Homo sapiens: one gene and its partner. The protein of the gene in region 1 purifies or fractionates together with the protein of each later gene. This does not show direct contact. Each region holds a gene or a part of one and is shown on either strand. Other genes may lie near its edges. The genes, in order: NDUFAF5 and ACAD9.

What was found.
Region 2: the proteins of NDUFAF5 (region 1) and ACAD9 purify together in Homo sapiens (co-immunoprecipitation; one large-scale study listed by IntAct). This does not show direct contact.

The regions. Positions count from the first base shown.
Region 1 is NC_000020.11:13,805,254-13,809,065, forward strand, and holds part of NDUFAF5 (arginine-hydroxylase NDUFAF5, mitochondrial), read left to right. Parts: intron 1-3,588; coding exon 3,589-3,649; intron 3,650-3,812. UniProt on the Homo sapiens protein: Arginine hydroxylase that mediates hydroxylation of 'Arg-111' of NDUFS7 and is involved in the assembly of mitochondrial NADH:ubiquinone oxidoreductase complex (complex I, MT-ND1) at early stages. May also have methyltransferase activity.
Region 2 is NC_000003.12:128,907,084-128,910,895, reverse strand, and holds part of ACAD9 (complex I assembly factor ACAD9, mitochondrial), read right to left. Parts: intron 2,712-3,812; coding exon 2,632-2,711; intron 1,924-2,631; coding exon 1,797-1,923; intron 1,553-1,796; coding exon 1,475-1,552; intron 1,024-1,474; exon of another isoform or gene 876-1,023; coding exon 747-875; exon of another isoform or gene 633-746; coding exon of another isoform or gene 563-632; intron 156-562; coding exon 83-155; intron 1-82. UniProt on the Homo sapiens protein: As part of the MCIA complex, primarily participates in the assembly of the mitochondrial complex I and therefore plays a role in oxidative phosphorylation.

The DNA of each region.
Region 1 (3,812 bases):
AAAAGTTATTGCCCATTACGAAAAAAATGGGATTTCTGCTAATCACCAGAAGAAAGTTAAATTATGTGAACTACACATGGTTTTCTGTGGTTATAAAGAATGAGTTTTAGAAAGATTTCTACTAAAAATGTTTAACCTGATGTTAAAATGTTTAAAAGCCTACATTTCTATTAATTGGGAAATATAATTCAGAATACTATCCATATTCTCTAAAAATGAGCCTAATGACTCATACTTTAATATAATATAAAAATATTGGTGTAGAATCTTCTTTAGTTTATACAATTAGAAAGTTGCTGATTTAATAAGAAAGTTATGAGAATGTCTTCTTGAATCATTACATTTATCCTGTGAGGCATGTATACAGTTTTGTTTCTGAGGTGCTGTATTAATATTGCGTCCTGGCCAGGCACAGTTGTTCACTCCCATAATCTCAGCACTTTGGGAGGCCTAGGTCAGAGAATCACTTCAGCCTGGGATTTCAAGACCAGCCTGGGCAACATAGGGAGTCCTCATCTCTAAAAAAAAATTTTTTTAAATAGCTGGGCCTGCCTGTAGTCCCAGCTACTCGGGAGGCTGAGTTGGAAGGATTGAGCCTGGGACGTTGAGGCTGCAGTGAGCCATGATCTCACCACTGCACTCCAGCCTGTGTGACAGAGCAAGATCCTGTCTCCAAAAAAAATAATAATAATATGTGTTCTAATTCATTTTCTAAAAATTCCCATCCAAAAAAGCTTTTGTATAATCAGCTATACAGGTTTATGTTGCATACATTAGATATATTACTTTTACGCTACAATGGATTTTTATTTTTAAAGTGAAATCGAGTCAGATTAGTATCATATAGATGTATTTACATCTTAATGTATTTTCATCTTAATGAATTATTTTCAGAGAATGAGCATTCTAAGTAAAGCTGATTTCCGTTTTAGAACTGAACTACCAGACTAGTACTTTAAGAGAATGGTGCAAGGCCTGGCACGGTGGCTCACGCCTCTAATCCTAACACTTTGGGAGGCCAAGGCAGGCAGATCACAAGGTCAGGAGATCAAGACCATCTTGACTAACACAGTGAAACCCCGTCTCTGCTGAAAATACAAAAAAATTAGCTGGGCGTGGTGGCACATGGCCTGTAGTCCCAGCTACTTGGGAGGCTGAGGCAGTAGAATAGCTTGAACCTGGGAGGCGGAGGTTGCAGTGAGCCGAGATCGCACCACTGCACTCCAGCCTGGGCGCTGGGTGGCAAAGTGAGACTCCGTCTCAAAAATAAAATAAAAAAAATGGTGCAGATATGGTCCCCTTTTAATTTAAATAAGGCCTTCAACAAAGCTGTTGTGGCATTCTTTTGATTGAAGTGGAGATAGTGCTTTTAGTTGGTTGCACTGAAGAATTGTTTTCAAAGGATATTGCTTAATGGCTAGATAACAGCCTGGAAAGAATTTTGTTTTTAATCTTAGGATCTCCTCTTAAAAACAGCTTGTTAATATGGAAAAGTATATGGATGATGAATGTTCATGGTCTCACTACCTAGAGGTCTCATTAAAAAGCATACACAACCTGATACACGTATATGTTTTTTTAAAGAAGAGTAAGGTATATATAGAGAGAGTGATACAGTGGGGTGTAAAGTGAAACGAAGTCTCCTCTTCCTGACTTCTCCCTCTGTTGCCCAGGCTAGAGTGCAGTGGCGAGATCTCCGCTTACTGCAACCTCTGCCTCCCAGGTTCAAGGGATTCTCATGCCTCTGCCTCCCAAATAGCTGGGACCAAGGGCATGTGCCATCACACCCAGCAATTTTTTTTTTTTTTTTTGAGATGGAGTCTTGCTCTTTCACCCAGGTTGGAGTGCCGTGGCGTGATCTCGGCTCACTGCAACCTCTGCCTCCCGGGTTCAAGCGATTATGCTGCCTCAGGCTCCCAAGTAGCTGGGACTACAGGCACCAACCACCATGCCTGGCTAATTTTTTGTATTTTTAGTAGAGATGGGGTTTCACCATGTTAGCCAGAATGGTCTCGATCTCCTGACCTCATGATCTGCCTGCCTCGGCCTCCCAAAGTGCTGGGATTACAGGCATGAGCCATCGTGCCTGTCCCTCCTCCTGACTTCTCAAACCCTGGTCCCTTTCCCCAAAGATTTGTTAGCTGTGTCTTAGACATCGTTTCAGATCCACTTTTTTTTATAGACCCATAGAATACACTTATGTCATTTAAACTTACTTATATAATATTACATGCACTCTTTTGCTTTTTTTTTTCCAGTCAATAACATGTCTTGGAGATTTTTTTCCTATAGACATGTATCTACCTTATTTTTTGAGAACTGTACAGTATTTTATAGAATACATATTCTTTAATTTGTTTAACCAGTCCTCTATTAATGATGTTTAGATTTATTTTAGGCTAGTTTCCAGCCAGGCGCCATGGCCCACACTTGGAATCCCAGCACTTTGGGAGGCTGAGGCTGGTGGATCACAAGGTTAGGAGATCGAGACCAGCCTGGCTAACACGGTGAAAGCCCGTCTCTACTAAAAATACAAAAAAAAAAAATTAGCTGGGCACGGTGGCAGGCGCCTGTAATCCCAGCTACTCGGGAGGCTGAGGCACAAGAATCGCTTGAGTTCAGGAGGCAGAGGCTGCAACGAGCAGAGATCACACCACTGCATTCCAGCCTGGGCAACACAGCAAGAATCCGTCTTAAAAAAAAAAAAAATTATTTTAGGCTAGTTTCCAATAAGAATAAACCCCTACTTTTAGTGCCTAACACAATAAAGTTTTATCACATCACAGCTGCGTGCTGGTGGGACAGCCCATCTCCATCTTGTAGCTGTGCCATCTGGCCCTGTGTTCTATAATCTGGCCCTGTGTTCTATAAGATCACCACAGCAAAAGAGATGGCCTGGAAAAGGCTCTAGCTCTTAACTGTCTTGCCCCTCCTTTCTTTGGCCAAAAGAAATATGTGTTTGAGATTGGGAAGTGTCAAGGAGCACCTGGATATTTGGGGAGCATCAGTGGTCTCTGCCACTGTACCAACAGTTAAGTCCTGTATCAGGCTTCAAAAAGAAGAGGAAGTCATTACCCAATTGTTCATTTGAGAAACAAACTCCACATGTATCAGCAATGTGCTCATTTCCTAAACAAGCCTATTGGCTGCATTACTAGATATAGAATGAAATATTTTGATTCTAGGTGCCCCATTTTAAGAAAGATTGATATTGACACTGTCCAGGGACATGTAGTCAGAACATGTAAGGATCTCCAGATTTTTGTGTCCTGAAGGTTTTCAAAGACTTGGAGGAGAGGGCAATGGTTTGTAGGGTACAGAATACTCTTATTCTGTGTGGTTCCCAAAGAGAGAACTAGAACCAATGATGGAGTTTTAGGATGATTTCTCTCACAATGCAGGATATTTAATCAGCAATTAGAGACTTTCATAAATCAAACATAAGCCAGATGACATCTATGAAGAATATTGTAAATATTTTTTGCTTAGCATGGGAGATTGGTCTGGGTAGTCTCTGCGGCCTCTTTTTTAAATCTGGAATTTTGTATCATGAATGTCAAATGAATATTTCTTTTTCTTTTTAAATAGGACACTGATGAAATTCAAGTTAACTATCCTGGAATGTTTGAATTGATGGAAGATTTACAAGGTAAGGCACTTTAAAGAATTTTTAGACTCCATTGGGAAAGGTAGGCCAAAAAAAAAGAATTTTTAGACTCCATTTGAGAGAAACATTTTGAGAGCCAGCTCTTTGGCAGGCACTGGGCAAAGCACTAGGGATCCATTGTTGAGGAGAAAGCAGACTGTCTTCA
Region 2 (3,812 bases), on another chromosome or scaffold:
TGACAGGGTCCAGAAACAGCTCACCATCAATAGGGGCCTAGAAGTGGGCCCTTCCTTCCCTCCCCCAAGACATGCCACTCACACTTGTCCAGCTGAGAGAGGCTGAAGAGATTCTGCAAGTAAGCTTCCACGCAGAAGGTGTTGGCCAAGAGAACCTGCCAGAACCGAGGACAGAAAAGATATGCCCAAATTCCTGGAATCAGACCTCTGAGCTTCAAAAACCCAGCCTATCAGCCAAACTGGGTAGCATGGCAGGGGTCACAAGGCCTGGCACAGGAGTCACCCCGTCTTGGGTTCTAATTCCAGCCCTGATCCAACAGCCTTTCCCCAACAGCAAGTGACTCAACATCTCTGACCCTGTTTCCTCTGAAAGGCAGATGTCACAATCCTGGTATCTGCAGGTGCTCTGGAAAGTGCAGGCAGAGATCCTGGTATACAGTGGGTCCTCAGAGACTGCACCCGCCTCCCTCCAGCACAGCGGGCAATGTGCAGGGTCTGTCCCTTGCTGGGGGTAGGGGCACTGGGATCAGGAACCCCTGTCACTCACCCCCTCTTCTCTCAGTCAGGAAGAAGAAAGGGAACAGCCCCATCTCCTGAGCAGCACAGACCCTCCCACGGCCACCGCATGGTGAACCTGCACAGCCTCCCCCACACCCGACCACACCCTCCTCAACAATCAACTTCATTAAAGTGCAGCAGGACAGATGGCAGCAGCCAGGCCCTGTGTGAGGCTGGGCTGGGCTCACCTCGTGGTCGTGGTTGCGGAGCCCAATGCGGATGGAGCGGCTGGCCCGCGACAGCACGGCCGTCATGCCATACAGGTTGATGAGGATGTTGGCCACCCGCTTCAGTACCAGCTGCTCCTCCATGATGGTCTGGGATCACAGAGGCTCCAAGTGGGGACTCACTACCTAGACCAGTCCCCCACATGGTCCCTCCCTGGGCTGCATCTTTGCCTGTCTTAGTCTCCTGTGTTCCTTGAGAAAGTGGAGTCAATAACACCTTTCTCTTCAGGTTGTGGGAGAACGGCTCCCAGCCACCTTCTGTTTTCCCTTCTCTTTGAGCTCTAGATTCAGGGAGGGGTTAAGGCAAGACCAGGTCCCAGAAGCTTGGCTGAGACCAGAAGCCAGTGCTTACTGTGCTACTGCCACCTTCAGCAGCAAGGGCCCCACCAATCAGGTCCCTAGATTCAGGCCCCAGGTGGAGCTGCCCTCCCGATTCTAGGGAGCCTCTCTACCTGAAAGGTGCACAGAAAAACACTGCAGAAAACTCACCCAGCAAGGGTACCCATCCGAGTAGCTAAGTGGGCCCCAGGCTGACAAAGTCAGCCTGACCTCACCACCCCATCCCTCCAGGGTGATCAACATTTCTGTTCTAGGCCTGGTCCCAAAGGATGCTTGACAAAAAGTAGTCTCATGAATGCTGGCCAAATTGGAGGACCGCTTGCGACCCAGGCCTGGGAGGGCCTGGTTACCTTGCCAAAGCGGAGCAGCAGTGTCTCCACGGTCCGGCCGAAGCAGTAGGTGTTCTCCTCAAACTTGTTGGCACTGTCCTATTAACCAAGACAGGACTCAGTTCAGCACCTCATCCCTACAGTGCCCTGTCCTGTCTCACAGCCCGGGTACCAGGCAGAGATGCCCCATCTGGGGGAAGCAATCCAGGGTGTCATGGACTAGCTGGTGTTCCCCAACTTCCCCTGGAGAAGCCCAGACCCCCCACAGTGAGATCTTTTCTGCCACAAGGAGATCTGGCAGGAGGGCATTGAAATAGGGGGTATGCCTGTTAGGCCCACTCACCGCAAGACTGGGGTGCACAACTCCATGGTTGCCTGTCAGCCCCAGGTCCACAGTTCGGCCCAGGGAGTCCCGAAGCCTCCGGCCAACGGTATCCATGACTGTGCTCACTTTGGCCTGTTTAAGCTCACTGCAGAAAGTCCATGGTCCTGTGACTGGAGGCCTCGCTGCTGGCGCTCACTGTCCAGCAACATGGCCCATTCGGCACCCAGAAGCTCCGTGCCCCCCTCTGGCCTGGGTATGCTGGGCCCCTGGCTACAGCCTGAACCCCCCCAAACCCACCACCTGCCAGAGAGCAGCCAGTCTCCTCAGGGGAGCCACACATATGCTCCCCCATGAGGGGTGGAGTCACAGCCAGCTTCCCAGCAGCTGTCTCCTGTGAAGGAGACAAAATGCTACTAGCAACCTGTACTTGGCCTCCAGCAGTGATTTTGGATTACTGTGCCCCTAGGGTGGGGGTGGAGGGGAGCATGAGGGGAAGAAGGGCAGAGAAGAGAAACACTGGCTTATGTTGGCTGTGAGGCCTGGCACCTTTAAAGGGACACCTCTCATTCTTCAGGTTCTGAAAAACCAGCTGCCTCTAGTGTGAGGGACCAGATGGGGGATACGGTATTTATGCTGAAGCTGTAGGGTGCTGTGGCCATAAGGGCAGGGCAGCGAGGGCTTCCCTGGGCAGCAAGCCCCCCACTACCACAGGGGAAGGTCCCCTCCACAAGGCTGCGCCACACCCCCATGCCCCCACTCCAGGTCAAGGCAGCTCTTTCCTCCCACTGCCCTGGACTGGCCCCTGCTGGGCAGGTATGGGACCTGAGAAGCACACGGTGACAATGGCACCTACTGGATCCTGGTAGTCAGGATGCGGCCGGCATGCTGCAGACCCGTCAGGGCGATGTACATCCGGAGAATCTCATTGGTTCCCTGTGGTCAGTAGTGTAGAGGTCAAAGGCTGCCCCCCGGCCAGGCAGCCATGGTAGTGCCACGTGTGCTGGGTAGAGCCGGCCACTGCCTGCTTGCCCATTGCCACAAAAGCCACTGCTCCTGAAGTAGCTGGGAGCAGGGCTCTGGCCAGGGCTCAGGGAGTGCACAGGGATGAGGAGGGAGGTGACCAGATGGCCATGAGCTCCCACTGGGACCCCCCCACCTCTCCGTGACCAGCCTCACGTGTGTCAAGCCTTTCTCCAAGTCTCCAGGTCCTCTGTAAAATGGAAACCAGCTTTCCCCGGGTGGTGAGGGGTGCTGATGCCTGGGGCTCAGCCAGTGCCAGACAGACATTGCTGGCTCCAGGTGGAGGCCAGATTCCTCACGGAAGCCAGAAATTGCTGAGTGGCAGCTAGAACCTCCTCAGTGCCAGGTGTCAACACACCCAGAGGGCCACATGCTCCCCACTCCCCCAACCCATGATTCTGATCAGTGAGAGGCCAGTGGGCTTCTGCCCACTCTGCACAATGGTACTGTGTGTCAGGTGCAGGGGCCTGACCCAGGCTACACAGCCAGCACTAGGGACTGAGGACTGTCCCCTGCAGTCAGGCTGACATCACGGACAGCAGGACTCCCTACAGGAAAAGGGGGGACTGCAGGGGCCTCCTGGCAGGACCACCCAGCTCCGAGCAGGCTCCAGACAGGAGCTCTCACCCTACATCGAGAGCCCTGTGTTCTTCCAAGGCCTTGAGGGCTTCCTGAACCCTGCTGACCACCCCAGCCCTGGAGAACCCCAACCCTCCCAGGCTAAGGGAAGGGCCTTTGGAGAAGACCCTTTGCAGGGCTGAGACCACTCCAGTGCCCTCAGGCTGGCCCTTGCCCCGTATGTCCACTGCAACAGTGGAGATGGCTGGAACCCAATGGGTAGGCCAGGAACAAAAGCAGCCAAGGAGGCCTCCCACTGGGCAGGACGGCCCAGGAGACAAGACTACACTCCCAGAGGCTGATGATGCCTCTCATCACCAGACCTGCTGCTCAGGCCCAAACCCTCTCCCTGTCTCAGGCCTGCCTCCTGTATACCCATGCCCACCATCATATCCC